Regions from separate parts of the Homo sapiens genome. Here all the other regions are linked to region 2. Evidence: fine-mapped expression QTL. A gene starts in region 2. Each other region holds a variant in brackets. All regions are shown on one strand. Distances are between the middles of the regions. Region 1 has its middle 70 kb from the start of NAP1L1. Region 2 holds the start of NAP1L1 (nucleosome assembly protein 1 like 1). Region 3 overlaps OSBPL8 (oxysterol binding protein like 8).

Region 1 (10,522 bases), 69 kb before region 2:
CATCAGACCATAAAAATGTATAATACAGTCTTAAAGTTTTAAATGGCCTTTTTAAAATATGCTTTACAGCAACAGCTTAATTAAAAAGATAATGGTGCCTATGTTACATACTGGAAGTCGGGAAGTAATCAACTTGAAATAAACCAGTCTTTGTAGAATTATCTCAAATTTTAAATTATTTCAGTATATCAAAATCCAAGCATGGATATAACATGTGTTATGCCAACTGCAGAGGACTCTCAAAACCTCTTCCCTTAAAATTATAGAATAGCTTGGTGCCAACATTAGCATCCCCACTGCGATGAATTTACAAGGAGATGAAGTTACATTTGGGGATATCGATATTATAAGGACACCTATCAATCTGATGAATAGCTACAGACAATGTCTGTAGCCTGTCATAGAACAGCCCTCTGGTTTGCCAAAGAACCACTTAAAATGCATAAATGCATTCTTTGTGCTAATGGAACAGATCTCTTTCGTGGTTTCAAAGGAGAAGAGAGAAGAAACAGAGAGTGGATGGTTCTTGTTTCACTTACGGCTTCCAAACCAAGACTACCAAATGAGAAAGACAGCTTGCTCTCTGAGCAGCACCAAGCCAGAAAGGAAGGTTCAGACCACTACCCACTCTCCCTTCTCACTTCTAAATTACACCATGAAAGTGGAGACAATGAGGTGTGCATTCCAACGCACAGGCCTGTGGTTGGCTCTGGGTATGAATTCAGCAGTGTAGACTGCGGCTGTGTTCAGTGGGTCACCACACTCCCATAACTGACCACTAGTAGGCGTGAAAACTGAGGCAACCCAAGATCCTGTGGTGGAACAGTTAGTTGCTGCTTTCAGATTCAGTTTCTGGCTAGAATGTCACAGCATGAATCACCTTGGAGCAGATTCCTGATGGCACGAGAGCTATAAATTGAATGGTACGACACTTCGTGGCTTTCACTGGCTCTGACATTAGCAGAAACAGCTGAGTAATCAGACAAAAGGCAGTGGAAGAGGAAAACGGAAGAGAATTAATATTGAGCAGCTTCCCTCTTCTGGGCATAAACTAAGAGTCTTCACATGCGTTATGGAGACAGCGTGGTTCTTACAATTTTGCATCTACCTCTTGCTAGCTATGTACACTTGGACAAGCTCCTTAACCTCTGTGAACCACAGTTTCCTCATATCTACCTCCTGAGGTTGTGTTGGGAGAAAAAGAGAATCCATGTTTACATGACACATATATATGGTATATATTACATAGAGTATGTATACACAACATAGTATATATAATATATACACATTATATATATATACACATACTATATATGATATATATAGTACACAACCTAAAACCTATATATAAATATACACACACACACACACATCATGTTGGTTTCTCCATAATTGTGTGAGCCAATTCATTAAAATAAATCTCTCTCTAGTATATAATACATGTATTTAATGAACAAGTTCCTTAACTATATATAGAATATATTTTTATTAGGTTCCTCATATTTTATATATATAGAGAGAGAGAAAGAGAGAGAGAGAGAGAAAGAGATGGAGAGAGATCTATTTTAAGAAATTGGCTCACACAATTGTGGAGGCTAGAAAATCCAAAATCTGCAGGGTAGGCTGACAGGCTGGAGACCTAGGAAAGAGTTGTTGCAGTTGCGAGTCCGAATGCAGTCTAGCAGCAGATTCCCTTCTTCCTCGAGAGACCGCAGTCTTTTTCTACTAAGGCCTTTCCACTGATTGGATGAGGCCCACTGACATAATAGAGGGAATGGAGGGGGAATCTGCTTTACTCAAAGTTTGCTGATTTTGTGTGTGTGTGTGTGTGTGTGTGGTGGAGTCTCGCTCTGTCACCCAGGCTGGAGTGCAGTGATGTGATCTTGGCTCACTGCAGCCTCCGCCTCTCAGGTTCAAGCAATCTCCCACCTCAGCCTCCCAAGTAGCTGAGGCTAAGGGAGCCCACCAGTCTGGCTAATTTTTTAATTTTTTGTAGAGATGGGATCTCACTTTGTTGCCCAGACTTGTCTCGAATTCCTGGCCTCAACCAATTCTCTCACTTCGGCCTCCTTAAGTGCTGGGATTACAAACATGAGCCACTGTGCCTGGCCTAGATTCAGTATAATTTTAAAACCCACTGGGATTTGATGCATAGAGCACTTTAATCCAAAGAGTGAAAGTTGTTGGTTCTTACTACCTTTAGCTATAAAATAAGAAGCTGTTGGAACTGGAAACATACTTTAGAAATCCTTAATTTATCTTTGTCTCCCACCATTTATTTCACAGACAAGGAAACAGGAGCCCAAAGTTTAATCCAGAAAAGAGAATCAATAACTGGGCCAGAACCTGAACACAAATCTCCCAACACTAGTCCTTTGCCCCATGGTTATTTTTTCTTCTTGATCTACAAATAGAAACATAAACCGGATGTTGTACATCATCACAAAATAAACTAGAAACCATTGCATACACTAGAGTACTGTTCATCTGAGTAACATTCGGGCTACCTTGTAACATAGAATTGCCCAACATGCAGTTGCCGAGTTTATGGACAGAATAATCTGGGCTCACACTACAGTGCTCATTCCACACTTGAGCATCATAGAACAGTCCTTACCCAGTGTCCAAAGGCCTTCATTATCCCATTTTTGGTGTTTAGTGCCAATTCTTGTTAGCTGGAGGCAAATTACCTACAGATCCAGCAAAGAAAGAAGCCCATTTGGCAACTATTCACCCTTGTCAGATTTGAAGCTGTTCTGGGAAGGCATTTTAATTAGACAGTGGGTGAGCTGCCACATTTAGAAGCAGCTCTTAAATGGAAGCAGAGAATTTCAGGACCAACTGAAGTTCTTGGTGCTTGTGTTGCTTTACCACTTAAAAGACAACCAGTGGATTCTTCTCTAGTACTCCTTTAGTACTGCAGGCTTTGTAAGATTTGGAATGGTTGAATGACTTCTTAAGGCTCATTCCTTAATTCTCATTGCACCTCTGAGTGCGTGGTTTGCAGGCAGAACATGAATCCTTTGATCATTGTCTAATTAACTCAAGCTATGTACCAGATAAATGGTGACTGTTTTGATGATTATATTCAGTTTTTCCAGAAGTGCTCATTTCAGTGAAGGCCTTTACAATTCATGAATATTAAGTGGGGTTTTTGTGTACAATTAAAGCAATAAATCAATCATCACTGCAATGTTCCATATTTATTATCTTCTTGCTTACAAAAAAACTGAGCAGTAACTCACTTGAACTTCAGTGTCTCCATTTTATAGGGAGGAAAGAGCAACAGAAAAATATTATGTCACCCAGCTTGTGAGAGGCAAAGTAAGAACTCTAAGCCAGAACCCAGATCATATTGTAGCAATCATTCAAAAAAGAAATGACAGTTTTCATCTTCTGATTTGTGCTATACATTTTGGCAATATCCTTAATATCTTGTGAGTGAGAATCTACTAAAAGGAAGTTGCCCAGCTTAGATATGAAGAAGTGGAACATGGCATGCTATAGAACAAAGTACATTGGACTAGAGATTGAGATTTGAGTTCCGCCCTCAGCTCAACAAATGACAACTGCTGTGACCTTGAGCAAGTCACCACATTTTGCTGGGCCTCCAGTTCCTCATCTACAAAATGATGTCTTAGCATTAGGAAACTTTCATCACAAGAAACATTTTGCAAAATCCCAATGTGTAAAACAGATAACAGATAAGAGAGCTCTGGTGGAGGAGGGGCCGAGGGGCCCAAGACCTAACTTTTTTTTTTTTTTTTTTTTTTGAGACAGAGTCTTGCTCTGTTGCCCAGGCTGGATTGCAGTGGCGTGATCTCTAGTCACTGAAACCTCCACATCCCGGGTTCATGTGATTCTCCTGCCTCAGCCTCCCGAGAAGCTGGGATTACAAGCATGTGCCACCACGCCCAGCTAATTTTTGTATTTTTAGTAGAGATGGGGTTTCGCTATGTTGACCAGGCTGCTCTCAATCTCCTGACCTCAGGTGATCCACCCACCTTGGTCTCCCAAAGTGCTGGGATTACAGGAGTGAGCCACCATGCCTTGTCCTGGGCCTAACTTTTTGGTCTTGCTTTTCCACTTGGAATCAATAGTGGCCAAGGCCCCTTTATAAGCTTAGGGCACTGAACCACATTACTATAAATTCCCTCTCAATGTTTATGTTTTAACAGTTATTTCCTTTCTCCTAGGCTTTTCCAAAATGTGAGGCATATGGAAAATTCAGGCAACACCCTGTTACTTATTCATCACTTAAGCCATGTTTTGGCTCAGAAGATACCAAGCAAAGCTGAATATTACTGTATTTCAGAAAGGGGAGTATTTCTTCAGTGCTCATCTTGGGGGTCTTCATAAAAAATGATTGACAGCTGACAGCTAATGTCTATTTTCACTTCATTGCCTTATGGGAAGAGATAACCATGAGCAGGCCATTTGGGAAAGTGAGGAATATTATCTAAGAATCATGATCCACAGAACCTGTTCACGGGTGAGGAGAAAGGGACGAGGTAGGGGGAAAACATCCCTAGCACAACCAGATTCTCCCCCATTATAAACGAGGAAAGTAAAAAACAGGGTCATGCTGCATTAATGTCTAGGTTTATTAGACTTACTACTTTTCTGGGCACAGTGGTAGACTTACTACCTTTCTGTAGTCCCAGTGATTCAGGAGGGTGAGGCAGGAGGATTCCTTGAGGCCAGGAGTTTGAGATTAGCCTGGGCAACATAGACCCTGTCTCAGAAAAATCAAAAAGAATTACTACCTTCCTCACACTGAAGGATTCTCAAACATTATTACATGGAGAATGAGCTCTCTTTGTGACCGTTCTCTAGAGGTTTTGACTCACTACTCTCTGTCTCTCACCCAGGGATTGAGTCTCAGCTAAATCCCTTTTCCATCAGTCACCAAAGATGCCCATTCACTAAATTATGCATACATGTTTTTTTGCCCAGCGAGGCCAGATCTATTTGCTCTTATAGAAAAATAAAGCATTTTTGCTGTTTTCCTTTTGTTTCTGCAAGCTTTTAGTCCATGGTGACATCATGGAAGCTTAAAACTTGAGAAGCCTACTCTCACAGCCCATGGACAGCCTTTCCTCACCCCAACCCCATCTATAATCACCACACTTTGGTCCAACTGCAACTGCTCTGTGTGGCATCAAGTTCTACAGGTAATCTGAAACTAAAATCATGAAAGAAAAGTAGGATTTGTGTTGTCGAATGGGATTTTTTTTTTTCGACTTGCCTGATTTGCAACTCAATCAGCAGGTAAGGCTAAAATAAAATATACAATCCAGGCCAGGCGTGGTGGTGCATGCCTGCAATCCCAGCACTTTGGGAGGCTGAGG[C/T]GGGTGAATCACTTGAGGTCAGGAGTTTGAGACCAGCCTGGCCAATATGGTGAAGACCCGTCTCTACTAAAAATACAAAAATTAACTGGGCGCGGTGGTGAGTGCCTGTAATCCCAGTTACTTAGAAGGCTGAGGCAGGAGAATTGCTGGAACCTGGGAAGTGGAGGTTGCAGTGAGCCAAAATCACACCACTGCCCTCCAGCCTTGGTGACAGAGTGAGACTCAGTCTCAAAAAAAAAAGTGCATATATATATATATATATAAATTTATATATATATTATATATATACACACACACAATGGCGGATGCTTTGTCTATATTTCTAAAATGTTAAGCTTCATACAAACTATGTACTGGTGGTGAATTGCAAAAATGACTATAATTTTTTCCCATCTCTGTAAGCATACCTCTTTAAAATGTGAATTTGAAGCTCCTCCCACCAAGAGGTAGATTCTATTTCACCATACCTTGCGTCTGGGCTTGGCTGTGTGACTTGATTTAGAAAATGAGACTAGCAAATAAGAAGCAAGCAGAGACTTGCACATTATGCCTTGTTCTCTTTTGCTGTGGTTAGAACCCTGAGATCTCCATGTGGAGGAGCCCAAACTGGCATGCTGAAAGATGAAAGGAGAAAGTATGAAGTGTCCCTGCCAGCCAGCTCCTAACCAACAACCTGCCAACGGCCGGACATGTGAGCAAGGCCATCCTAGACCATCCAGCTTCCAGTCAAATCTCCAGCTGACCACAGACAATATAAGCAAGCCCAGCAAAGAACAGGAAAGCAAACCTAGAGAAAAGCTACACAACCAGCCTGCAGAATTATGAGTGAAATAAGTACTTGCTGTTTTAACCAGCTAAATTTGTTATGCAGCAATAGCTAGCTGATATTGCACTCAGTAAATAATTATTAATTCAGATTTCTCAGAATGAGTATGAAAATGAAAAAGTAATTATGTATATTTAGAACAAAGCAAAGAGAAATCTGCTAAATAGAATAGAAACTGGCAGACATAAGGCTGATTTTTCTTCTTGAATTAAAATAAATAAATAAATAAATGAAGCAATAGAGGCCAGGTGCAGTGGCTCATGCCTGTAATCCCAGCACTTTGGGAGGCCAAGGCGGGCACATCACCTGAGGTCGGGAGTTGGAGACCAGCCTGACCAACATGGAGAAACCCCATCTCTAATGAAAATATACAATTAGCCGGGCATGGTGGTGCATGCCTGTAATCCTAGCTACTCGGGAGGCTGAGGCAGGAGAATTGCTTGAACCCGGGAGGCGGAGGTTGAGGTGAGCCAAGACCATGCCATTGCACTCCAGCCTGGGCAACAAGAGGGAAACTCCGTCTAAAAAAAAAAAAAAACCAATAGAAACAAATTTGTAACTCAACTTTTATTTATTTATTTTTTGAGACAGGATCTCACTCTGCAGTGGTGTGAGCATGGCTCACTGCAGCTTCAACCTCCTGGGCTCAAGCAATCCTCCCACCTCAGCCTCCTGAGTAGCTAAGACTACAGGTAAGTGCCACCATGCTCAGCTAATTTTTTAATTTTTGTTGTTGTTGTTTCAGAGACAAGTTTTCACTATGTTGCCCAGGCTGGTCTCTAACTCCTGGACTCAAGCAATCCTCCCACCTCAGCCTCCCAAAGGGCTGGGATTACAGGCATGAGCCACCACACCTGGCCTGTAACTCAACTTTTGATTCACCTGCCACTCTGACCAGTTCTATGAATCTGCTGAGTTCATTCTGGGCCTCATTCAAAATAATACTGACTCCTTGCCGCATTGAAGTGTGGGGAGGACTAATAAACCTTTCTTTCTTGTTCAAAAAGAATCCTGGGATCCTTGAATGAGGTAGGAAAGACAGAGCATTATTGCTGACACAGAAGCACGTCAATGGTTTCTGCATTGATATGTAGCAACAGAGAAGCCTCTTTAGGAAAGGGATGGGCTGGTTCCGCAGCCAGGGATAGAAACTAGAGAAAGCAGTAGGTGGGTACAGGAAGTGCAGGGAGGCATATGAGTATGTGAATTTCAGACATGTTCCTATTTTTAGTGTTGGCTAGGCAGTATCTGTATTTTTGTCTGTTCAAACAGCATACCTTCTCAGGAAGGAGGATAAAAACATCGGTATATATAGGGAAGATAAAAACATAGGTTTAGCATTTGCAGCACAAATTGCAAACTTTTTAAAGATTTAACTTTTCCAGCAGCTTGTCTGCTAATACTTAATAGCCAAAGTATAGAATATAATAGTTTTGCTGAGACTAAAATATTTTACTGATTTGAAAAGACTTTCAAAGTCAGAAAAGCTTATAAAATAAATAAAATCTGTTTGTACATTTTAATAACTCAAGACTATGGTTTTTAGGGAAAAAAATTACTTTTTTCACCCAAAATCAAATTTCAGTGTTAAATGTCCCTCTATACAGTCTGCACCAATAAGTCCCAAACTCTGATTACTAGCGTTCCTAAGGCACTTTTCAAAAATTTCTCTAGCGACCTCAGCCTCACTTATGGATATTCTGACCAAGTGGAACATAGGACTCTATTTTCTTTCTTCCTTTTTTTCTTTTCTTTTTTTTTTTTGAGACAGAGTTTCGCTCTTGTTGCCCAAGCTGGAGTGCAGTGGTGCAATCTCGGCTCACTGCAACCTCCAACCTCCCTCTGCCTCCCAGGTTCAAGCGATTCTCCTGCCTCAGCCTCCTGAGTAGCTGGGATTATAGGTGCCCGCCACCATGCCTGGCTAATTTTTTTTTTTTTAATTTTAATAGAGACAGGGTTTCACCATATTGGTCAGGCTGGTTTCGAACACCTGCCTCGGCCTCCCAAAGTGCTAGGATTACAGGGGTGTGCCACCGCACCCATCCAGGTCTCTATTTTCAAAAAGGTGACTCTGTTGATGAGCCAATTTTGGAAATCATTATCAGTAAAACGCTGTCCATGAACATAATTAATCTGATTGTCTTTTCTGTAGTCATAATAGAGATTCATTTCAAAACATTTCTTTTTTACAACCTTACACAAATGCCTACTCACTGTTAGCAACTGGACTATTTCTGAAACAAATATAGCAGTCTTTGATGAAAAATAAAAATGAGTACCTGTTGCAGAAGGAGTTATTTGGAGCAAGTACCTTTCTGGTGAATACTTGTACCAGACACATTCATTTGAGTGCACACATGTAGGTCAATTCCTAAGTGTAAATCTAACTACTAGGGGTGTCCAATCACCATTAGCATTGAGCTCCCAGCCTCTGACCCCCATCCAGCTCCTCTCCTTAGGAAAGGGGAGGGACTCTAACAGATTGATGAGCTTTGAAGAGGACACTGGCCATGTGGAGCCCCACTCCTTCCTTGCTGCTGCTTCTAGAAAGTTTCTGGCTGAAGCACATGCTCATTGTTCCTCTGTGCTCCCTGTTATTGTCTGGCCAGTGTGCCTCATCGTGCCAATATGTTTCTTGTTGGAATTCGGTATTATAAAACCACTTCCCTGCAGATAGCCACATTTTTCTTTATCAGATTTAGGAACCCTAATGGAGCTACTTCAGCCTCTACAGGAGGTAGGCAAGGGAAGAGTGTGGGTATGGGGCTCTCCTCAAATATACCAACATATCCCTGTGAAATTATTATTATTATTATTTGAGGTGGAGTCTCACTCTGTCACCCAGGCTGGAGTGCAGCAGCACAGTCTCGGCTCATTGCAACCTTGGCCTCCTCGGTTCAAGCAATTCTCCTCCCCAGTAGCTGGGATTACAGGTGCATGCCACCACATCCAGCTAATTTTTTGTATTTCTGGTAGAGACAGGGTTTACCATGTTGGACAGGCAGGCCTCGAACTCCTGACCCCAAAAGATCCGCCCGCCTTGGCCTGCCAAAGTGCTGGGGTTACAGGTGTGAGCCACCACACCTGGCCAAAATCTTTATTATTATTACTTATATTTTAGAGATGAGTAAATTAAGATTCAACAGATTATGTTTCTTTTCCAAGACCGCTCAAGCCATAAGAGATAACCCTGAGTCTTGCATACAGTTCTGCTGACTCTAAATAATATTGATTCATTAATGGTAACAAATATACTAATGTTAGATGTTAACAATGGGGAAGCTGGGTGCAGTATGTATGGGACCTAGCTATCTGTACAATTTTTTGCATTTTTCTGAAAATCTAAAACTGCTCTAAAAATAAAGTTTATTTCTAAAAAGGTTACATGTGCAATAAATGGCATCAGAAAAAGAATACATGTTTCTGGGCACTAAATAATAATATTTATTATTTTAAAAATAACACAACTATAAGTTTGAGTATGTCTCCATTACCTCATTTCCAGTTCTGGCAGAGTGCAAGGGTTACAAAGGCGCTAGAAGCAGACTTTGGTTGGAGTCACAGCTCTGTGACTCGATGCCAGTTACTCAACCTCTCTGAGCCTCAGCTTCTTCACCTGTAAAAAGGGGCCAATACCTGACAAATGCAATGGTTGAATTAATAAAATAATAGGGACTATGATAATAATAGTGTCCAGAATAATAAAAGTGCCTAGAACAGTGCTTGGCACAGACTTATTGCCTCATCCCCATTTGGATTCAATGCATCTGGAGTAGAACCAGGAGTCCACCTTTTAAATGCTCCTCCAGGTGATTTTGATGGTTTAGGTGTTATTAGTGAAGCCCAACCTCACCTGTAGGCATTGCAGTTGACCTGGCTGCCTGGACTATCAGAAGTTGGCTCACTGACTCTGCATTTCAAATCTCACCCTCCGCTGGAGATTTTCTTTCAAATTCCTCTGTAGGATTGTCATCTGGCACTGTTCTTTGTACCAAATAAAGATGTTGGCCAGTCCTGAGCTGAAGGAAATATCATATCAGCTCAGTTTGCTTCCTTATTCACCTTTCTCTGTTCTTCGACTGTGATTCCTGTAAATTCCAAAAGAGGAATTCTTTCCACAGTACTGGAGTTGCATTCTTGCAGCATATATTACAATTTTCAACATTATGACCATATAACAAGAAGCTCTTCTTGCCACTGGGCTTAAAAAAAGAAATTGTTAACAAATGCACAGAGAGCTATGCCATCGCAGAATAAAATAATATACATTCCAAACACACCAATATTCTCCTGTCTTGAGTTCTACCAACATTCTGTGGCTTTCCTCAACTGTAATGTGCTTAAC
Region 2 (10,522 bases):
AATAAATATTTACTGAAAGCTGTTCACGGCCAGTCACTGTTTAAACCAAGGGTATGTAAAAAACATAACACTGCCCTGCAGCAGTTAACAGGCTAGTGTGGTGTGTGTTATGGGAGAAGGAAACATGGGCTCATGAATGAAAGAATGAATGAATTAATTAATAAATACATATCTACATAAATACCCACATACAAGTGTTGTCCGCAAACAGAGAAGGGTTTGCAGCCAGCTTTGTCTTGATGAGTCAGAGAACTTTCTCTGACTTGATTAGACTTATATTTTAGAGCAATAACTTTGGTAGATTGAAGTGGAATAAGAGATTGGTATTAGGGAGACCAACTGTGAGGCTATTGCAAATGGTTTAGGTAAGAAATATTGAAGGCCCGCACAAAACAATGGCATATTTTCTTTTTTTTTTGTGATGGAGTTTCGCTGTTGTTGCCCAGGCTGGAGTGCAATGGCACGATCTTGGCTCACCGCAACCTCCGCCTCCCAGGTTCAAGCAATTCTCCTGCCTCAGCTTCCCGAGTAGCTGGGATTACAGGCGTGTACCACCATGCCCGGCTAATTTTGTATTTTTAGTAGAGACAGGGTTTCTCCATGTTGGTCAGGCTGGTCTTGAATTCCCAACCACAGGTGATCCACGTGCCTCGGCCTCCCAAAGTGCTGGGATTACAGGCGTGAGCCACCGCGCCCAGCCTAACAATGGCATATTTTCTACCTAAGTGGTCTATGTGTGAGAAACAAAATAAAATAAAATCTAGGAATGTAGAACATTATTTGGCATATAAAAAAACAAAAAAACAAAAAACCCTGACCATAATAAAAGGTCAACATACACTGCAATAATCCTGTCCAGGAAAAAAAAGAATTAAAATTTAAAAATAAATGAATGAAAGGGCAACATAAGGGATCCTTGGGCGATATAGCTGATCTGTATCTTCTTGGTGACAGATACACAAAGCCACAAATGGTAATATTGTATAGAACTAAATCCATAAACACACAAATGGATCCAAGTGAGACTGGGAAAATCTGAATAAGATCATGGATTGTTACCATTATGGTAAACTGGGGAAAGTTTTCATGGATCTCTCTGTGTTATTGCTCAAAACTTCATGTGAATCTATAATCATTTCAATAAAAAATTCAGTTAAGTAATGACAGGAAAATAAAAATATTCTTAAACAAGGCAAGCATAGTGGCTCATGCCTGTAATCCCAGCATTTTGGGAGGCTGAGGTGGGAGGACCTCTTGAGCACAGGAGTTGGAGACCAGCCTGGGCAACATAGTGAGATCCCCAAAATAAAAAAATTAGCCAGGCACGGAGGTGTACATCTGTAGTCCCAGCTACATGGGAGGCTGAAGTGGGAGGATTACTTGAGCCAGGGAGGTCAAGCTGTAGTTGTACCACTGCACTCCAGCCTGGGTGACAGAGTGAGACCTTGTCTCAAAAAAAAAAAAAAAAAAAAAGCCAGGCACAATGGCTCACTCCTATAATCCCAGCACTTTGGGAGGCCAAGGAGGGCGGATCACCTGAGGTCGGGAGTTTGAGACTAGCCTGACCAACGTGGAGAAACCCCGTCTCTACTAAAAATACAAAATTAGCCAGGCGTGGTGGTGCATGCCTGTAATCCCAGCTACTACTTGGGAGGCTGAGGCAGGAGAATCGCTTGAACCCCAGAGGTAGAGGTTGCAGTGAGCCGAGATCGCACCATTGCACTCCAGCCTGGTCAGCAAGAGCAAAACTACGTCTCAAAAAAAAAAAAGATTTTTTTTTTAAACAAAAAAACTATTAATCCTTTTTTTTGAATGTAGAGAGAAAAATGTAAGGCATCTTATCCATAATTTTCCACTTGGAATTTGATTACATTGCAGCTATAAATTAATTTGGGGAAAAGTAGAAAAAAAATCCAGATCTGAAACTAACGTAACTGTTATTTAAATGTATCTTGTGCAGTTTTTAGATGATAATTATTATTAGTTCCCTTGGATGTTTTACCTACAGATTAATTCAGAGGGAAGAAAATAAATACTGAGTACTTAAAGGGCAAGTCATTGCTCTGGGAACTTACATACATTTCTCTATTTCATGCTAATAAAGACACAGATTTTATTATAATTATTAATGCATTTTTCAGATAGGGAAGCTTGAAGATCAGAGTGGATAAGTACTTTTGCAAGGTCACAGTGTTGAAGGAGCCTATACCTGTCTGATGTTAAAGCCTATGCTTTTTTTTCTACTACATAGGGGCTGAAACACAGACACAAGCACAGGTAAAATACCATCTTTGTCATCAAATTTCTTGTTGATCTTCATAGTTCTTATCCAATATTGAGAAATGTTGACTATAATATTTTTGTGGTAATTGGTGTGGATTATTTCAGCTCAGGAAAATGTCTTTTAAAAGCTGTGACTAGATAGCTTTTAATAAAATATGTCACAAAAAGTGTCAGACACTATCAGAAGACTTCGGGGTAGTTCCTTAAACCTTTAAATAAAACAAAAATAAAAACAAAACTTCAGTAAGAGGTTAAAAATGGTTACCTTTTATTGAGCGGTCACTATATATGTCAGGCATTATGTTAAGCAACTTAAATGTGTTATTTAAAGTTTCACAGCTGAGCCAGGCACAGTGGCTTACACCTGTAATCCTAGCACTTTGGGAGGCCGAGGCGGGTGGATTGTCTGAGCTCAAGAGTTTGAGACCAGCCTGGGCATTGTGCAACCCCATCTCTACTAAAATACAAAAAAATTAGTGGGATGTGGTGGCGCGCACCTGCAGTCTCAGCTACTTGGGAGGCTGAGGCACAAGAATTGTTTGAACATGGGAGGCAGAGGTTGCAGTAAGCCGAGATTGCGCCACTGCACCTCAGCCTGGGTGACAGAGTGAGACTCTGTCTCCAAAAGTTTCACAGCTGGGCAAGGTGGCTCATGCCTGTAATCCCAACACTTTGGGAGGCTGAAGTGGGAGGATCTCTTGAGTCCAGGAGTTCAAGACCAGCCTGGGTAATATACCAAGATCCCTCTTGACTTAAAAAAAAAAAAATTTTTTTAAGTTTCACAACAGCCCTATGAAAAATGCATGCTTATTTTCCCCATTTTACAGATGTGGAAAATGAAACCTGGGATGGCTAACTGACTTATCCAAAGTTACACAGCTATTAAGTGGTAGAAAAATGGGGACAAAATAGGCTGTTTGACTCCAAAGCCACCCCTCTAAGCCTCCAGGCTACAATGCTATAAAAGTCTACCAAATGAAAATCATGGGAGATAGAGAAAAAAGGACCTTTAATTTTAGTATATATGCTTCCAAAGAGAGCATGAGAAAAGGAACTGCAACAGAAAATTTCGCATGGCCCAAGATCAGTGACCAGGGTCACCATTTATTGCAATTAAGTTAGATGAGTTAACTACATTGTGTGATTTGGGGGTATAAGAGGGGCCAATGTAAAAAGCTCAAAGGTGGCCGGATGCAGAGGCTCACACCTGTAACCCCGGCACTTTGGGAGGCTGAGGCAGGCGGATCATTTGAGGTCAGGAGCTCGAGACCAGACTGACCAGCATGGTGAAACCCCATCTCTACTAAAAACACAAAAAAACTAGCTGGGCGTGGTTGCGCCTGCCTGTAGTCACAGCTAATCGGGAGGCTGAGGCAGGACAATTGCTTGAAACCGGGAGGCAGAAGTTGCAGTGAGCCGAGATCGCGCCACTGCACTCCAGCCTGGGCAACAGAGTGAGACTCCGTCGAAAAAAAAAAAAAAAAAAAGCTCAAAGGTATCTTCAGGTCAGTCACCTCCTACCCCTTTTCTCATTTTATTTTCTTTATAGCATTCACTTATCAATTATTTATTATTGATAAGTGAAATTGTTTTATTACTAATATTTTATTAGTAAAATTATTTTATCTCTAATCATTTGCCTCACCTCACTAGACCATAACTTCAATAAAATCAAGAACCGTGTCTTTCTTACTAAATGCTGTATTTCCAGAGTCCGAAGTTGTGCCTGACATAAATATTTGTTGAATGAATGCATAAATGTCTGCCCTTCCCTGAACTTTAATGGCAAAGACTTAGATTTACAAACTGGTTCAAAAGACTATATTACAAAGGCATGCATTATTAGAAATATTTTATTGTTTAGTTTCTTAGATTGGCTAGGATACACTGAAAAAAGAAGAGGAAGCTGGAGAAAAGGGGGAAAGAGCATATGTACTGGTAATGATAACACCTAAGTTATAGGGGTTGGTGGGGGGGTGGTGAAACCTAAAAAATCCAGAGCCTTCATGAGCGAAGTGCCGAAAATTGATGAGGCTCTCTGGTGTGGGATAAAAACCACCACAAAAGCTAACTTCTCAATTTTGTCTCAGAAATTCTGCTACCATAAAGATTTATGGAAAGAAAGTGAAAGTTATTTAGTTCATTTTAATATGCTAATTACCTTGCATCGTGCACAGCTTTGATTAAAATGCAACATTCCTGAAGTTCTTATTGAAATTAATGTGTCAAATTTATGTTCAAACTGAGCACTGGTCTACCTTGTTTATGTATAGTGGGTTCTTCCTGAAGATCCATTATTGATGCTATTATGCTCCTTGTATCATTACATCATTGTTGAGAAGGGTGTACAGGAATAGGCTATGAGAACAACAAAGGAATTGTATATGAAAAACTAAAATGAATGAATAAACAGAGTCGTCTGCAGTATAGAGTGGGAAGGCAAATAATTTCAATGAGGTTCTGGAGGGCCAAGGAAAACATTGTATCCCCTAAAACGGAAGATAAAGTTGCTAAATGTGTGGATTACAATAGGGGATTCTAGGCAGTTTGAAGTTTCAATAAATGCAAGATTTAGAGAAGAGGTTCTCAAACTTTGTGGTCTTAGGATTCCTTTACACTCCTTTAAAAGTTGAGGACCCCAAAGAACTTTTATGTGCATTACTGATACTGATATTTATATCAGAAATTAAAAGTGAGAAATTTTAAGAGTATTTCATTTAAAAACAATAAAGCAATCAAATATTAACAAAAAATAATTTTTATATGAAAAATAACTACTCCCCCTTGCCCCCAAATCGAGTTTTTGCAAATCTCTTTAACGTCTGGTTTAACCGCAGATGACTGGATTCTCCTATCTGCTTCTATTTTCAGTCTGTTTCCTTATCACATGTCACGTAGCCTCCGGAAAACCCCACTGTACACTTGTGAGAGAATGAGAATGCAAAAGGCAGTCTTGACATTAATATGGAAATAGTTTTGACCTTCCCCATGAAAGGGTCTGGGGACCCTCAGACCATACTCTGAGAACAACTTTTTGAGTTAGTATTAGTCAATTCATCATCACTTGAAAATTAGCTATGAGGTTTTACAAGCCTGAGGATTTAATGTGATTTACTTTTTCAGAAAGATGAAACAACGGACGTACTGAGTGTCCTCATTATAACGCATCCAGAGAATGCACAAATATGCCATTTTCATCCGTCAAAAGAACTGAAGCCGAACTGACGGACTGTACATCAGTTACGAGGATGTGGCGGGGGGTTGGGGGGCAAAGGATGACGAGCACCCCCTAAAGGCGCGGAGACCCGCTGGCATAGGAGAAGCAAAACTGTCAGAAGAGGCCGCCGAAGTGGTCTAGAGGAAAAAACTGTTTTTCTTAGGCGGGGAAGGAAAACGGTTACCGGGGGCCGGCGAGTTGCAGGAATTAGGCCTTGACAGGGAGCGTCCGCCGTCTAGGCTGCGGCGAGCGAGGGACCAGGCGACTGGCGCCAGCCCTGAGCGTTCCCAGCACAACGCCGAAGGGGGCGGGGCGGGCCGGGCGCCGGGCACGCGGGCCAGGCCTTCCCCACAACTGATGGGGTTGAAATTTCCTTTCCGGCTCAGCAGGGAGAAAAGATATGGTGGGGTGCTTAACAGAGGAGGTTAGACACCGGCGGGAACCAGAGGAGCCCAAGCGCGGCGCCTGGGCCTCGGGGCTGCAGGAGTCCTCGGTGGGGGTATGGAGGTCGCCGGGGAAGGAGGACGGTTCAGTTGCTAGGCAACCCGGCCTGGACCCGCCTCTCGCTCGCGTTGCTGGGAGACTACAAGGCCGGGAGGAGGGCGGCGAAAGGGCCCTACGTGCTGACGCTAATTGTATATGAGCGCGAGCGGCGGGCTCTTGGGTCTTTTTTAGCGCCATCTGCTCGCGGCGCCGCCTCCTGCTCCTCCCGCTGCTGCTGCCGCTGCCGCCCTGAGTCACTGCCTGCGCAGCTCCGGCCGCCTGGCTCCCCATACTAGTCGCCGGTAACGGATGGGGGCCTGGAAGGGAAGGGGGAACGTGGTGTTGGCTGGGCGGCCTGCGCAGATGGGAGGGCCGGAGGGATGGAGGGACTGGGAGCCGGGAGTCGGGGCCGCTGGCCGCCCGTGGCCTCCGGGGTCGTCCTGTGAGGTCGGACAGGACCGCGGAGTCCGGACCCCGGAGCCTGAGAGGGGCCCCGGGGCCGACCAGCGCTTTTATCGGGGACGGCTGAGGCGACGTAGGGGTTGGCGCGGCCTGGAGGCCTAAGGTTCTCTGAGCTCCACCGTCTTTTCCGCGTGGACCGGAGCGAGGCCGCGGTGACGCCCGGGTGCCCTGAGACTCGGCTGCGCCGCGAGGACCGGGAGGCCCCCGGCGTACGGGCCGGGCCGAGTGCAGAGCCGGCCGCCTCTTGGACACCCCCCTGCTTTTCCCTCAAAAATAATACCAGGAGGGAGGCCGCTGGGAGATGAAAAGAACGGCGGAGGCTGCGAATTCCGACGGGAGGGAGGGGCTGTGGAGGGACGAGTCCCCGAGGCGGGGAGGGGGCGGGGGAGGCTGCGACGCTCCCGGGCTCTCCGCCCATTGGGGGCGGCCGCGCGGGGAGGGGAAACCCCCGGCGGCTTCGCTCCACACGTGGTAATGGGCTTCATGGCCACTGGCTGGGCCTGGTTGGAGACCCTTGCCCTCGGTCTGTGCTTACTTTGAAAGTTGTAGAGACGGTGGAATGTGAAAAGGAAGGGTAAGCGAGTAAGCCCTGTCCCTGGGTTTCAAACTCTTCCCTGCTTCTCTTTGGTCTTAATCTTTTTATTGGTACCAGAGATTGTGGATGTTAGCTGATGATAAGGAAGGGCCTCCACTGCTAGTATTTTAAAAAGTTAACGCGTATATAGCGCTTATATTAACTGTTATTAGCAAAAGGTTGTTATTGTGTTTCCCAGGTACTGTTAGATGGGTGTCTTGATCAGGGTTTTTTATTTGGGGAGTATTGATCCTGATCGATCTAAACCCCTAAACCAAGCTTGTCCAACCCGCGGCCCAGGACGGCTTTAAATGTGGCCCAACACAAATTCATGAGGTTTTTTTTTTTTTTTTTTTTTTGGAAAAAAAAGCTCATCAGCTAGTTAATGTATTTTACGTGTGGCCCAAGACAGTTCTAGTGTGGCCCAGGGAAGCCAAAAGATCGGACCACCCCTGCAAACGGTTCTTAGATGAAAATAAAATGTTTGGCCCTTTATGACTTTAATTGTTCTTGGCTGTCTTATAAATTAGTTCCTTTATTGAAGTCACTAGAATAAGATACTTAACGGTTTCCTTTTTAAGATGGGAGGTGGGATGGAATGAGGTGTTAGTATAAACTTTGCCAAGTTTGTAGCCTGCAACCTTGTCAATGAACCCTACTGCCCTAAAGATCTGGGGGATGGCAGTGTAGGGGGGCTGGGACTGAGGTCCCATCTGGGAAGGCTAGACTTTGAGAGTGCAAAAAGGATGAACCAGGCGCAGGATGTCCTCAAGGAGCCCGTATTTTAGACGGTCACTGATCAGTTTTGAAACAACTACATTTTAAAAATCTCACTGCTACATTTGAAGATATCCCACTGCTGCATTTTAAAATTTACACTGCTTGCCTGGTTTCACAAGAGCTGTAAAATGAAATTTGGCCTTTTGAAAATAGGTGGATTCAAAACATCTTTGGAAACGAGTATCTGGGTCCTCTTTTTTTGGTCAGCTTAAATTAATACTCCTATACTTTGGAAGTAATATACATTACCTTTGATTGAATAAGGGAAAAACCTTTTATGTATAGGGTACCATTTAAAAATCGAAGGGAAGTAAATGACTTTTACAGTTATTTTCAAGGCACTCTTGTGTTTCAAGCTTGTTTGAAGTTGCCCAAGTTTAAATAAATGGCCTAAATCTATAGTTTAGTTCTAAGAATACTGTCCTTTGGAGAATGTATGGAACTAAACCCTGGTAGGTGGACTTGGACATCTTCTGTCATAAAACCTGACTTTCATAGATTCTCCAAGTCAACATTATGTTAGTAAATAGAAATTTAAAAGTTTTCACTATACCAATTTGAATATCTTTCTAAATTTTATCTGCTACAAAGTGCCTATTTTTATATTAGGCCCATTGATTTGCAGAATTATAAAGCTAATACTGAATATGGTAAATTACTGCACTTGGCCTTTAATGAGATTTTTGAAACGAATACCTGTACCATAACTAATGTAATCCAAAATGCCATCTCATTTTATTCAGCTTGCTCCTGTTGGCTCCTGGTAAAACTGAGTTGATTCTAAATTCTCAAAATATATTCAAAACTAAGGGTCTTTTTGTAGAAGGGGCTAAAGAAGCAGTATCTGTTGGACTTCAAAGGTCTGAAGATGTCAAAATACAATATTTTATTCACTTCTTGGTTGTAAATTTGAAACAAAGGATTAGAGAGAATGACTCATCAATATCAAAATATTAATGATCAGTGTATTCAGATCTTCAAGTTTAATCAAACCTGTAATTGTGTTCTCAGTTTAGTCTTTGGGTAACTATCTAGCACCTGTATGGACATGTATCTTATGTCATGAGCAAAAGAGGCAAATTGGTTGCTTAGATGTAGAATGTTAAATTGTGATGAGAGCTATAAAGGAAGGAAAGGGTAAAGGGGTCAAAGAGTAATACAGCGTTTACACAAAGGAACCTGTTATAATTTGATGATTTTAAGTTCCATTTCAAACTAGTTTCATCTAAATAAGTTTTTGGGCAGAATAGGGGTTAGAAGGAGAGAGTTGTTACTTTACACCTATCCATATGTAAGTCGTTTAGCACAATGACTACAGAACATTAGAGTACATTAGTGGGCTTGCCATAGAAAATGGCTTCTATACCTTTGGTTACCAACTCTGCCTTTTACTTCCTGCATATTTGTATATATTTTTACTTATTCAGAAGTTTTGTACATTTTAATTTTTATTGGGAAACAGGGTTATATATATTTTTTCCTTGTGGAGACAGGCTCTTGCTGTGTTGCCCTGGCTGGTCTTAAATGCCTCACCTCAAGCGATTTTGCCTTGGCCTCCCAAAGTGCTGAGTGTATGGGTGTGAGCCACCACACCTGTCTAGAGTTATAATTTCAGTCTTGGAATTATTTTCTAAAGAGGGTACAGAAGAGCATAACAGGGATAAATAATGTAATAGGCAACACTGATTGATTATTCAGGCATTGTTTTAAATTCTGTGTGTATTATTAGCTCATTTAATTTACTTAGAGACAGGTAGCATCAACATTTTAACAAGGAAAAAAAATAGGTGTGGAGTGGTTAGATAACCCGTCCGTGGTTACGTACGTGAGCAGTGATAACTTATGATGAGATAATTTTTATCCTGGTTTTGAAAGAATGTTGACTTACACTGTTCTGCTATAAATCAGCATGAATATTAGTTCATTTTCTGTTGCTTAGAATACCTGAAACTGAGTAATTTATTTAAAAAAAAAGAATTTATTTCTTGCAGTTATAGAGGCTGAGAAATCCAAGATCGAGGGGACCCATGTGGTGAGAACCTTACTTGTGGAGACTCTGAAGGTTCCCAAGGCAGTACAGGGTATCACATGGGGAGGGGGCTGAGTGTGCTAACTGGGTAGCTTGGCTCTCCAGCTCCCCTGGTGGGAAACTGGGTAATTTATAAAGAAATACATTAATCCATGAATGGATTAATTCGTTTGTGAGGGTGGAGCCCTCATGATCCAATCACTTCTTAAAGACCCCCATCTCTCAGTGCTGCCACATAGGGGATTAAATTTCAACTTGAGTTTTAGAGGGGACAAATACTCAAACCATAGCAGCATGAAATTCAAAAGCACTCCACCTTGTATCCCACTGTGCTCTAGGGAAAAGCTGTATAGCAGTTATGGTCATGAAGTCTTCTTCCAGCATAGAATTTGTTTACATACACAGTCATGCATGGTTAATGATGGGGATGTGTTCTGGGGGAAATGCATCATTAAGCCATTTCATCCTTTTGTGAATGTCATAGAATGTATTTACACAAACCTAGATGGTACGGCCTAGTACATACCTGGGTTATATGGTATAGCCTGTTTGTTGTTCCTAGGCTACAAACCTGTATAGCATGTTGCTATGTTGAATACTGTAGGCAGTTTTAACTTTTTTAAAAATAAGTTGGAGTGTACTCTAACCACAAAAAGCATAGTATAGTAAATACATAAACCAATAAATCATTTAT
Region 3 (10,522 bases), 360 kb before region 2:
TTTAGTGCTATATACTATTTCATTATATGGATATGCCAGAATTTATTAAAATTCATTTTTCAATTGATGAATATGTTGTTTGGTTTTTGCTATTATGAACAGTGTTGCTATGAACATTCTTATTCTTGTCTCTTGGTATATACCTGTAAAAGTTTTTCTAGATCCAAGAGTGGAATTGTTGGACCCACAGGGTATTCAGTTTTATATAAGAAGCTCACATTGTTTTCCAAAGTGCTTGTATCAACTTATACTCCATTAACAGTGCTTAAGACATCTCGATGATCCCATCCTCATCAGTATTTGGTATTATCAGACATTAATTTTTGTTAATTTTACTGAGTATAAAATATTTATTATTTTGATTTGTATTTGCCTCATTACTAAAAAAGGATGAACATCTTTTCATACATTTATTGCCCATTTGCATTTTTCTTTTGTGAATCACTGTTCAAGTCTTTGCCCTATTTTGCTATTATGATGTTCTTTTTCTAATGATTTATTGAAGTTTTTTTTTAAGAACATTCTAGGTACCAACCTTTTGTTAATTATGGGTGTTGCAAATATCTTATTTTGTGCCTTTTCAGTTTATGATACCTTTAAATAAATTTATACTTTTAATATTGAACTTACTGATTTTTTAATTTTTGGGTTAGTGCTTTTTTGTGTCTTTTTAAAGGAATCTCTGTCCCAAGTTTATGAAGATATTCTCTTATTCTAAAGATTTTCCAGTTTTGCTTTTTTACATTATGTCTGTAGTCTTCATAGAACTATTCTTTGTGTGTGGTAAGAAGTAGAGTTCTCTCTACTTTTCCAATATTGATGACCAGTTGATAACCTCATATTGTTAACTGAGTAATTTATTCTCCCTATTTCTGTTGTATATCTGAGCTCCATGTATGTATGTGTCTGTTTCTGAAAGCTATCTGCTATGTTCTTTAGGTCAATTTATCTCTCTGCATCAGTACCATACATTTAAAATTATTTTTAGGAATCAAATGAATCTTGGATTTAGTAACTGAAAGAGACACCATATACTTTATGATGTTTTATAAAAATATAAAGTTGGTTTATTGACTCATTCAACATAAATTTATTGAACATCTTTAGTATGGTAGGATGCGACACCTTCAATAGGGCAGGAAGTTTACCAGGACCTGAGAATTTATGGGAAAATAAGGCAGACAAAACTTCCTTCTCTCATGGAATTTAATGTCTAATGGAGGAAGAAAAGCAATAAACTATATTTTTCAGATAATGATAGGAGCTACAATGAAAATCATGTAAGGTAAAGTGATAATAGTATAACTGTGAAGTGGTGGGTACTAACCCTAAAAAAAAAAAAATGCCAAATTGTGCCATGTTGAAATTAAGAACGTATCAAAAGTACCATGAAGAAACCAAAGGGCTTTTCTGAAGAGATGACCTTTGAGCCCAGACAACAAAGGAGAGGAGCTAATAATGTGATGATCTGGGGTAGGAATATTCCAGGTAGAAAGAGCAAGAGATAAAAGCCCTGTGACTGGGCAAAAGATGGCCTTTCTTGAGGAAATACCAAGAAGACTATTACGGCAGGAGCCAAGTGAGTGACAGGAGAGTAGTAGAGAATGAGGTTGGAACAAGTAGCAGGCCAGACTGTGTTGAATTTCCAGGTTATGGATTATATTGTAAATGTAATGGGAAGCCAGTGAGGATATTTCTGCATACTGGAAATCTAATTTATGATTTTAAAAGATTGCTCAGTAAGAGAAAGAGAAAAATAAAAACACATCTAAGGTTTTGGCCTGAGAAAGTAGTGGGAGGGGAGTAGTGATGGCATGAACTGAGTTTGGGGAGAGGCAGGTTTGAAGGATGAGCAGAATCAAAAATTACATTCTAGATAAATTTGAGATGCCTGTAAATAATTAAGAGGTGATTATAAGGCAGGCAGTTGGGTATGTAAGTTTGAGTTTAGGGGGAGATAGGAAGTTGGGAGTCATCAGTCTATACATTTTTTTAATTGACTTGGAAAAATAATTTTTTATATTTTGGATGAAAAGTGCAAGTGTTTTTGTATTTTTACTTTGGAATCTAAGGAGCTGAAATAAAATTTTGAAAACTATCGCAACAGAAAACATTTTAAACCAATTAGATTTAAAGGACATGATGATAAAAAGGTGAATGTGAAATTCTGAATGTCTGTATTGAAAAATAAAACCTATGGTGGAGACTAAACCGTCTTTTTTTTTTGAGGTGGAGTTTCGCTCTTGTTGCCCAGGCTGGAGTGCAATGGCATGATCTCTGCTCACTGCAACCTCTGCCCCCCAGGTTCAAGCGATTCTCCTGCCTCAGCCTCCCTAGTAGTTGGGATTACAGGCGCGCCAACACGTCTGCCTAATTTTTGTATTTTTAGTAGAGACGGGGTTTCGCCACGTTGGCCAGGATGGTCTCGAACTCCTGGCCTCAGGTGATCCACCTACCTCGACTTCCCAAAGTGCTAGTAAATCGTCCTTTCTTAAGATGAAACTCGAGTTTTTATAGGCTGAAAGCACAGGAATATAAAATGAAAGAATGTGGAGATCCTCAGGTACTTTGGACTTGGCAGTTTGCCCTGTTTCTTCATTGAGTGTTTTCACTTTGTTTCTGCTCTCTGAAACTGGGCATGGCTCGCTATTACTGAGCGATAGATAGTAGGATGGCCAAATGGGTGAGAAGCAACTACAAAGCACTACTTAAATTGTTTATTGGGGCAGCAAGCTTTAAGAGACAGACTTTGGAACCAAATGGTTCTGAGTTAGAATCTTGCCTCTATTACTGTTTAGCCTCAGGCAAGGCAATCTCTGACCCTCAAGTTTCCTCCTCTCTAAAACAGTTATCATACCGACTTTTCGTGAAAATTAGAAATTAGAGTAGAAATTCTAGCGAATGTCAAATATTATTTTATACTGCTAGTAATTTGTAGTTTTTCTGATTACTAATGAGGCTGAGTATCTTTATATGTTTATCGACGATTTGTATTTTTTTTTTTGGGAAATGACTGGCTTTGGCTTATTTTGTTGGTAAATATAAAGAATAAATAGCACAATGAAAGGCACACAGTAAACCTTAGGCCTTTCATTATCAGTTGGATATGTATTTTCATTATTATAATGTCTATAATTTGTATATTTGACTCAAACATACCTGTCAGTTCTTCTTGGATCAGTAACAAACCAACATGAAAACAAGATGACTGTGAGAATTTATTAAAGTATTGAGTTGGTAAAATGAATATAACCACCAAGGCCATTTCAGTTTTGATCTTATTCCATGTTATTAACTATACTATTATGTAAATCTGTGACTTCAGTACTAATTATTTTTCCCTTCTTTCCTTGAGCTGTTGTAGCAAACAGTGACGAATCTCAGCTTCTGACACCAGGAAAGATGAGTCAGCGCCAAGGAAAAGAAGCTTATCCAACGCCAACCAAAGATTTGCATCAGCCATCTCTTAGTCCAGCAAGTCCTCATAGCCAGGGTAGGAAGTTGTGGTTTTCATGTTTTGTCTTGTTTTTGTTTTTGTTTTTGGAGGGGAGAAGGGGAGAATGACATTTGGGGACTATCATATTTTTTTTCTTTTTAACTATTTGGTTTTGTAAGGGGTTTTGTTTGTTTTGTTTAGGTCATCTATAATACTCTTGAAATGAGTACACTTTCCTTTAGACTTTTAATTTTTTTTAATATTCTCCAACATACTTCGTTAGTTATATCATTCATCTAATTTGGCGATTCTCACACTTTGTGGTCTCATGGTTCCTTTGTAGTCTTAAAAATTATTGAAGACTGTGAAGTGCTTTTGTTTATGTGAGTTATATCTATTTTATTATATTATAAATTAAAACTAGAAATTTAAAAATTTAATTCATTTAAAGTAATAAACCCATTACATGTTAATGTAAGTAACATTTTTATTAAGAACTACAGTGTTTTCTTTCCCTCTACTCCCCAAAAAGTTGATTGAGAAGGTTGGTAATGGTTTATCCCAGGACTTCTCAACCTTCGAACTATTTTCAGGACTTCTCAACCTTGGCACTGTTTTGGCCTGGAAAGTTCTTTGTTGTGGAGGGCTGTCCTATGCATTATATGATGTTTAGCAGTATCCCTGGCCTCTACCCAGAAAATGTCAATAGCAGTTACCCCAGTTGTGACAACCAGAAATGTTTCCAGATGTTGCCAAGTATCCCTTGAGGGACAAAACCATCCATGATTAAGAACTGCTTTTTGGCGGTTTTT[G/C]CAAATCACTTTAATGTCTAGCTTAAAAGACACCTGCATTTTTGTATCTGCTTCTGCAGTCTGTTGTGATGTGATGATCCGATTGAAGTATATGAATAAAATCTGGTCTCATGCATATATATATATGGGGGGGGTTTATACATAATTATAGATATTCTTTGATAATATGCCAAAACTTGACTAGTAGTAATTTTCTTTATGTTAATTGCAATCTGGAATCTGAAACGCTGTCAGTACACTTTTCATACTCTGTTAAAATTCACTCTTGAATTTTGAATGGCTCTTTACTCATGCATGATTTTGTAACATCATGCATTAGTCATTTGGAAAATATTTGCTCACTGAATTATGCAGATCTTCCAAGTGTTGACACATTAAAAAATATAGTACAGAGAAGGGCTTTATGTATGCTTCTCATTCTGTTGCACAGAATATTAAAATCTTACGTACTAAAGGTTCAAGAGCAATAATTTTTACTTCTTCATCAAGGACATCTGTAAGTGAAACTGTCATTCTTCTGTGAGTGCATGACTGAAGAATTCAGTGCCTACTACTCCAGTTTGGTGCCTCTGCCTTGATTTATGCTAAGTTGCCAGCAGTTTTACCCAAGATTGCTTTTGTGCCATCAATGAAAATGGCAACATAATGAAAAAGTATTATGAAACTAGTTTTCACCTTGCAGATCCTCTAGAAGGGTCTTTGGGTACTCCCAGAAGTTCAGGGATCACAGTTTCTAATTCATAATTGATAAGTTTTGTATAATGGATTCTGCTCCTCAGCTGAAGTTTATTTAATCAAATGTACGGAAATCTCCTGTGGTACTACTCATAGCTGTGGTGGAAGGACTTCTGCTTTTAAAACTGAGAAATGAAATTTGGTGTTTTGAAAGTTAATGTATACTTAGGTTATTGAGTATTTTTAAAAATTAAATTTAGAGTTCTGTCATACTTTGTAATTAGTCAGTTTTGATGTTGTAACTTTATGAATTATCTTTTGAAATTTGGCTTTAGTAACTTTTCAAATGAGTACTACCTTGTAAATAGTAAGTTACATGATCATTTTCTACTTTCTTTCTTTATTTTTTGAGACAGAGTCTTGCTCTGTCGCCAGGCTAGAGTGCAGTGGCGCGATCTCAGCTCACTGCAACCTCCATCTCCCGGGTTCAAGCGATTCTCCTGCCTCAGCCTCCTGAGTAGCTGGAATTACAGGCGCATGCCACCATGCCCAGCTAATTTTTGTGTTTTTAGTAGAGACGGGATTTCACCGTGTTGGCCAGGATGGTCTTGATCTCTTGACCTTGTGATCCGCCCACCTTGGCCTCCCAAAGTGCTGGGATTACAGGCGTGAGCCACCGCACCCATCCTCTACTTTATTTCAATAGAAAATGTTTATCTAGTCATATATTAGATGGAAACACTTTCATATAGCATGGTAGGAACTATAAAAATTTATGTAACAAGATGAAAATAATTACTATAACATATATTGCTTAGTTGTCGATTGTATTTTTGAAAAGTTAGCATTTTTGTTGCCAAAATGCTTTTTGGAAGACCTGAAAAACGATATATGATACACACTCTGGTATAAATAAGCTTCATTAAGATAAAATTCTGAAACAATGCAACTGACCTGGTTTTTTTTTGCACTGTGCATCAGAATTTTGGCTATAATAGATATGGTTTCTCTGATGCATGTATCTGTGCACTAGAATATTTAGAGGAATTCTTTAACTTAGGAGTTAATGAACCAACAAAAGGGTTAGTTACTAATAATTAAAACTACACTTGTTTATATTTATTATGAATGTTTTCAGGCAAACAGGGAAGTTAAAAAAAGAGTACAGTGAACACTAATATACCCATTGTATAGATGTAAGGAGTTATTAACCTTTTGTTTTGTTTGTTTCATTTATTTAGGGTACAGCGTGAATATTTAGAGTAAATTACAGACTTCATGACGTACCCCAAAATACTTAATGTGTCTCTAAAAAATGAGCACATTTTCTTATGTAACCATAAAACCTTTATTACATCTAACAAAACTGATGATAATTGCTTAACATAACCTAACACCTAGTCTATATTTAAATTTTGCCTAGTTTTCCCCAAATCTTTCTACAGTAGGCTTGCTGAAACCAAATAAAGTCCATACATCTTATTTGGTTATGTCATTACGTCCTTAATCCTAAAGAGTCTCCTTGTTTACTTTTGTTTTCTTTTGTGTCTTTGACGGTTTTAAGAAACTTGGCTGACCGGGTGCAGTGGCTCATGCCTGTAATCCCAGCACTTTGGGAGGCCAAGGCGGGTGGATTACCTGAGGTCAGGAGTTCGAGACCAGCCTGGCCAACATGGTGAAACCCCATCTCTACTTAAAAATACAAAAAAATTAGCCAGGCTTGGTGGCGGGCACCTGTAATCCTAGCTATTTGAGAGGCTGAGGCAGGGGAATCACTTGAACCTGGGAGGCAGAGGTTGCAGTGAGCCGAGATCGCGCCATTGCACTCCAGCCTGGGCAATAAGAGTGAAACTCCATCTCAGGAAAAAAAAAAATGGATCTAGGCCAGTGTCCTGTAGAGTGTTTGACTTTTTTAGATTGTTTGATTACATCTTTGCGGTATTACTTAATTTGTTTCTGTATCTTCTATATTTTCTGTAAACTAGAAGTTAAATGCAAAGGCTCGATTATATCTAGCTAGAGCATTTTTGGCAAGAATACTTTGTAGGGAGTGTGTAGTACTTCATGCTGCATCACATAAGAATTCACTTAATATCTGATTGTCCTGCTGCTAGTGATACAAGATTGGTAGATTTAGGTGAGGATAGCCTGATTCTCTTCATTGAAAGTTGCGTCTTTTCATTCTTTATGACTTGAAAGTGAAGATAAAGATGATATATTTGGCACCTTGCAAAAATCGTGTCCCCCATCAACTTTTTACTGAAAGATGTTTGAATCCTTTGATGATCATTAACTGAATCAGTTACAATATTAGGAGTTGAAAAATAGTGATTTTATAATTCTGTCATTCTTGTTATATGTGTTAATGAAATCTTTAAAGACAAGATCATCACTTAGGGTTACTTGGTAAATGTGAAATATAGTTAGTTCCTACAGAAAAGGTAGGCTGTGTGGGTATTTGTTTACTGCAAAGTATTAATTTTTTGATTGAAGGCGTAATGTGAAGTCTACTTCCAGTGGTGACAAATTCTTTTTGCCTTTTAAGTTTTTTTAATATCATGAGGAACTCATGGATTTTAATATATTCATTGTGTTTCAGTCATTGGTAAAGTGAAGATAATAGTATTTAGCACATAGGATTTTATTAAGGTTTAAAATGAATTAATATGTATATAAAGCCTAGCACCTGGTAGATGATAACCACACATGATCGCTGATATAATAATATTATTATCATTACTGTCATCAGTATTTTAAATAAAAAATGATTCCATTTGGGTTGAAGGCTGACATTTTAGGCTTTGCTATACTTCAGTATCTTTTAGAGGCTCATTTAGAACTTCTTTTAGTATGGATGGCCCATATATAACCCTCTAATTTAAAGCAGCCACGGTGTTAGTCATATCTTTATTTGCACTTAAATGTTCCTAGGTAAGTTTATGAATAAATTAATATTTTTAGAGTAAATTACATAGTAGATGTACTTCTTTAAAAGTCATTGGCTTTTTGTAAAGCAAAATACCTTCCTCTGGTTTATCCACTGAAATTCCATATCACAGTTTTCATGTGTAGGAGGTTTGTTTGAAATAAGATTATCTGTTAGCTTTTGGTCATGGTGAAGATTAACTGCTGGAGGAGATAAACCAATGTCCAGAAAACCTCTGATGTATCTGCCTTATCTCAAGTACTCATGATCAGCATTTTAGCTTCTGAATGGAAAGAATTAGAGTTCCAAAAGCTTATTGATAATATAGTGCATAACATTTAAAGGTCCTCATGTCTCTGAGGGCTTTTATATGCCTTAGCTCATGGAATTCTTACGAGGACTTTATGGTATATAAATCATTATTCCCCCCATTTTACAAATGAGGAAACTGAGCAGTTGGTAAGGTTTACAAGTCTACATAGTATGTAGTAGAGCTAAAATTTGAACTTAAACTCAGACTTTTTAAGTTCCAGTCAATTTTGTCATATTTTTGGAGGTTCAAATTTTTCAAACTTTGAGTCGAGTATTTTGATAGAATTCCATTATGTATACAATGCTTTGGAGATATATTTTTTGGGGGGTAGTACCTAGGAGTGCAATTGCTGAATCATGTGGTGAGTGTTTGTTTCACTTTATAAGAAATGGCCAAGCCATTTTCCAAAGTAGTTGGACCGTTCTTACATTCCTCTTAGGCAGTGTGTGAGCTGTCCAGTGGCTCTACATCCTTGATCTTTTTTATTTTAGTCATTCCAGTAGGTGTTTAGTGGTATATTGTGGTTTCAGTTTACATTTCCCTCATTACTGATGATGTTTGAGCATCTCATATGCTCATTGGCCATCTTTTACATCTTCTTTTTGCAAAGTATCATTTCATATGTTTGCCCATTTGAAAATTGTCTTGTTTGTATTATTATGTTTTAAAGGTTCTTTAATACATTTTAATATCATTTTGATAGCCATGTGTATTGAGAGTACTTTCTTCCAGTCTTGGCATGCTTTCTTATTTTCTTAATGCTTTCTTTCTAAGAGCAGATGTTTTTAATTTCATTGATGCCCAATTTATCAGTTTTTCCTATGATTCAAACTTTTTTCCTATTAAAGAAAGTTTTGCCTACTCTAAAGTTGCAAAGGATACTTTCTGTGTTTTCTTTTAGAAGTTATAAAGTGTCAAGGCTCTGATTTATCTCTTGATTTTTATTCTTACTTTTACCATCTTGGTTAGATCTCTATCATTTTATGCCTGCATTACTGAGTAGTACCACAGCCTCCTAACTGCTATTAGAACCTTGCCCTCCAACATACCAGTTCATCTTTCTTAACAAAACAACCAAACAGAAAATTATTTTTTACATACTTTGGTGAGATTATGATGGGTTCAGGGTTCTTATAGGTGTGTATTACCAGAGAACACATGGATCCTATGAAGTAGATCTCTGAGGGAAATAATATGAATAAAAGAGAAATATAAAATTTTAAGTGAAAGTACCACTTTTTATTATTAAAGCTTTTAACTATAAAAAAACTAATGAGATGGCTACATTTATGTCCCTCTCATTCTCAAAAAGGCAGTGGCTTACTGTTGCTTAGAGCAGTAGCACCTACATCTGGCTATATCTGAGTCACCTGGAAGCTTTGCTTAGATATAGATTTCACTCCACTCTTTCAGAATCTCTAAGGGTGAGGCTCAGTAACATAATGTGTTTATAAAGCTCTCCAAGTGTGTCTGATGTAGCAACTTCTGGACCAGCAAGTGGAAACCAGCAATTGAGAGCATAAATTTAGGCTTCCATATCTTTGGTAGTCAAGGTTCTTAGTATGTCTGATTTTACTGTACTCTTCCAGTTTCATCTTGTGTTTCTCATCATCGTGGACCCAGCTAGATAGCTTTCTTCACTGTTTCCCAGTGAGACTGTACTTTTATTTGTGCTGGTCTTCTATAGTGGAATATGCTTCTCCTTTCTACTTGCTTATCCAAATACTTCTCATTCTAGAAGGTGTAGTTTAAATCTGTTCTCTTTTGTAAGGCTTTCTTAGGTGATACTGTTATCTCAGTTTTCAAAATTCTTATATCACTGCTTTGGGGATTTCACAATATGCTGCTTTATATTGTTATTATAATAGGTATGTTTGATTTCTTCAAGCAGTGTTGTAAAGAGAGTTAAATGCCTTAAATTACATTCATAATAAATGAATGATTGCTTACCATCAATTTAAGAATTTCATCTATTCTCATTCATGTTTCTGGCTGAATCTCTGTTATGTATATTGACTCATACCAACTTAATGTAGCTCATCATTCTTTAAAAGCTGTTCTAAAGTTTTTTGCACTCTGGTTTTGTTCTATTGTTTTAGGATTTTTTTTAAGAGCTGGGGAGACTGACTCTCCTTACCCCACACACATCAAAATACATTTTTGTTTGTTATATGTTTAGATTTTGGTGAATTAGATTATTCAAGAAATTATGTATTTTCCAGATTGTGTTCCTTATTCAAAGGCTTAGTATCAGTTTACTTTAAAATAATTTTACCTTAAGTAAAATTATAGTCTCTTAAAGAGGATGGTATTTGTTTTGATTTATTTGAGCCGAACATATTTCAATTGTTTATTAAGAA

Evidence for each region. PIP is the estimated chance that this variant, and not a neighbour inherited with it, causes the effect. A credible set is the group of variants that fine-mapping cannot tell apart.
Region 1: its variant is the best candidate, but not a certain one, in a credible set for the expression of NAP1L1 in blood mononuclear cells (TOPMed, PIP 0.89).
Region 3: its variant is the best candidate, but not a certain one, in a credible set for the expression of NAP1L1 in whole blood (TOPMed, PIP 0.60).

What each region holds. Positions count from the first base shown.
Region 1 is chr12:76,149,173-76,159,694 of GRCh38, reverse strand. No RefSeq gene overlaps it. Among named protein-coding and RNA genes, the nearest start is that of NAP1L1, 70 kb to the right of the region's middle. The variant C/T (reference allele first, on the strand shown) is at 5,352.
Region 2 is chr12:76,080,330-76,090,851 of GRCh38, reverse strand. NAP1L1 (nucleosome assembly protein 1 like 1) reads left to right here and starts at 6,167. Exons shown (of 15, transcript NM_004537.7): 1 at 6,167-6,285. LOC124902970 (a long non-coding RNA gene) reads right to left here and starts at 5,767. Exons shown (of 2, transcript XR_007063379.1): 1 at 5,685-5,767; 2 at 4,119-4,641. RefSeq lists silencers at 5,733-5,892, 6,333-6,412, 6,553-6,602, 6,673-6,732, 6,783-6,852 and an enhancer at 5,896-6,437.
Region 3 is chr12:76,443,822-76,454,343 of GRCh38, reverse strand. OSBPL8 (oxysterol binding protein like 8) reads left to right here. Exons shown (of 24, transcript NM_020841.5): 4 at 3,356-3,493. Among named protein-coding and RNA genes, the nearest start is that of BBS10, 100 kb to the right of the region's middle. The variant G/C (reference allele first, on the strand shown) is at 4,249.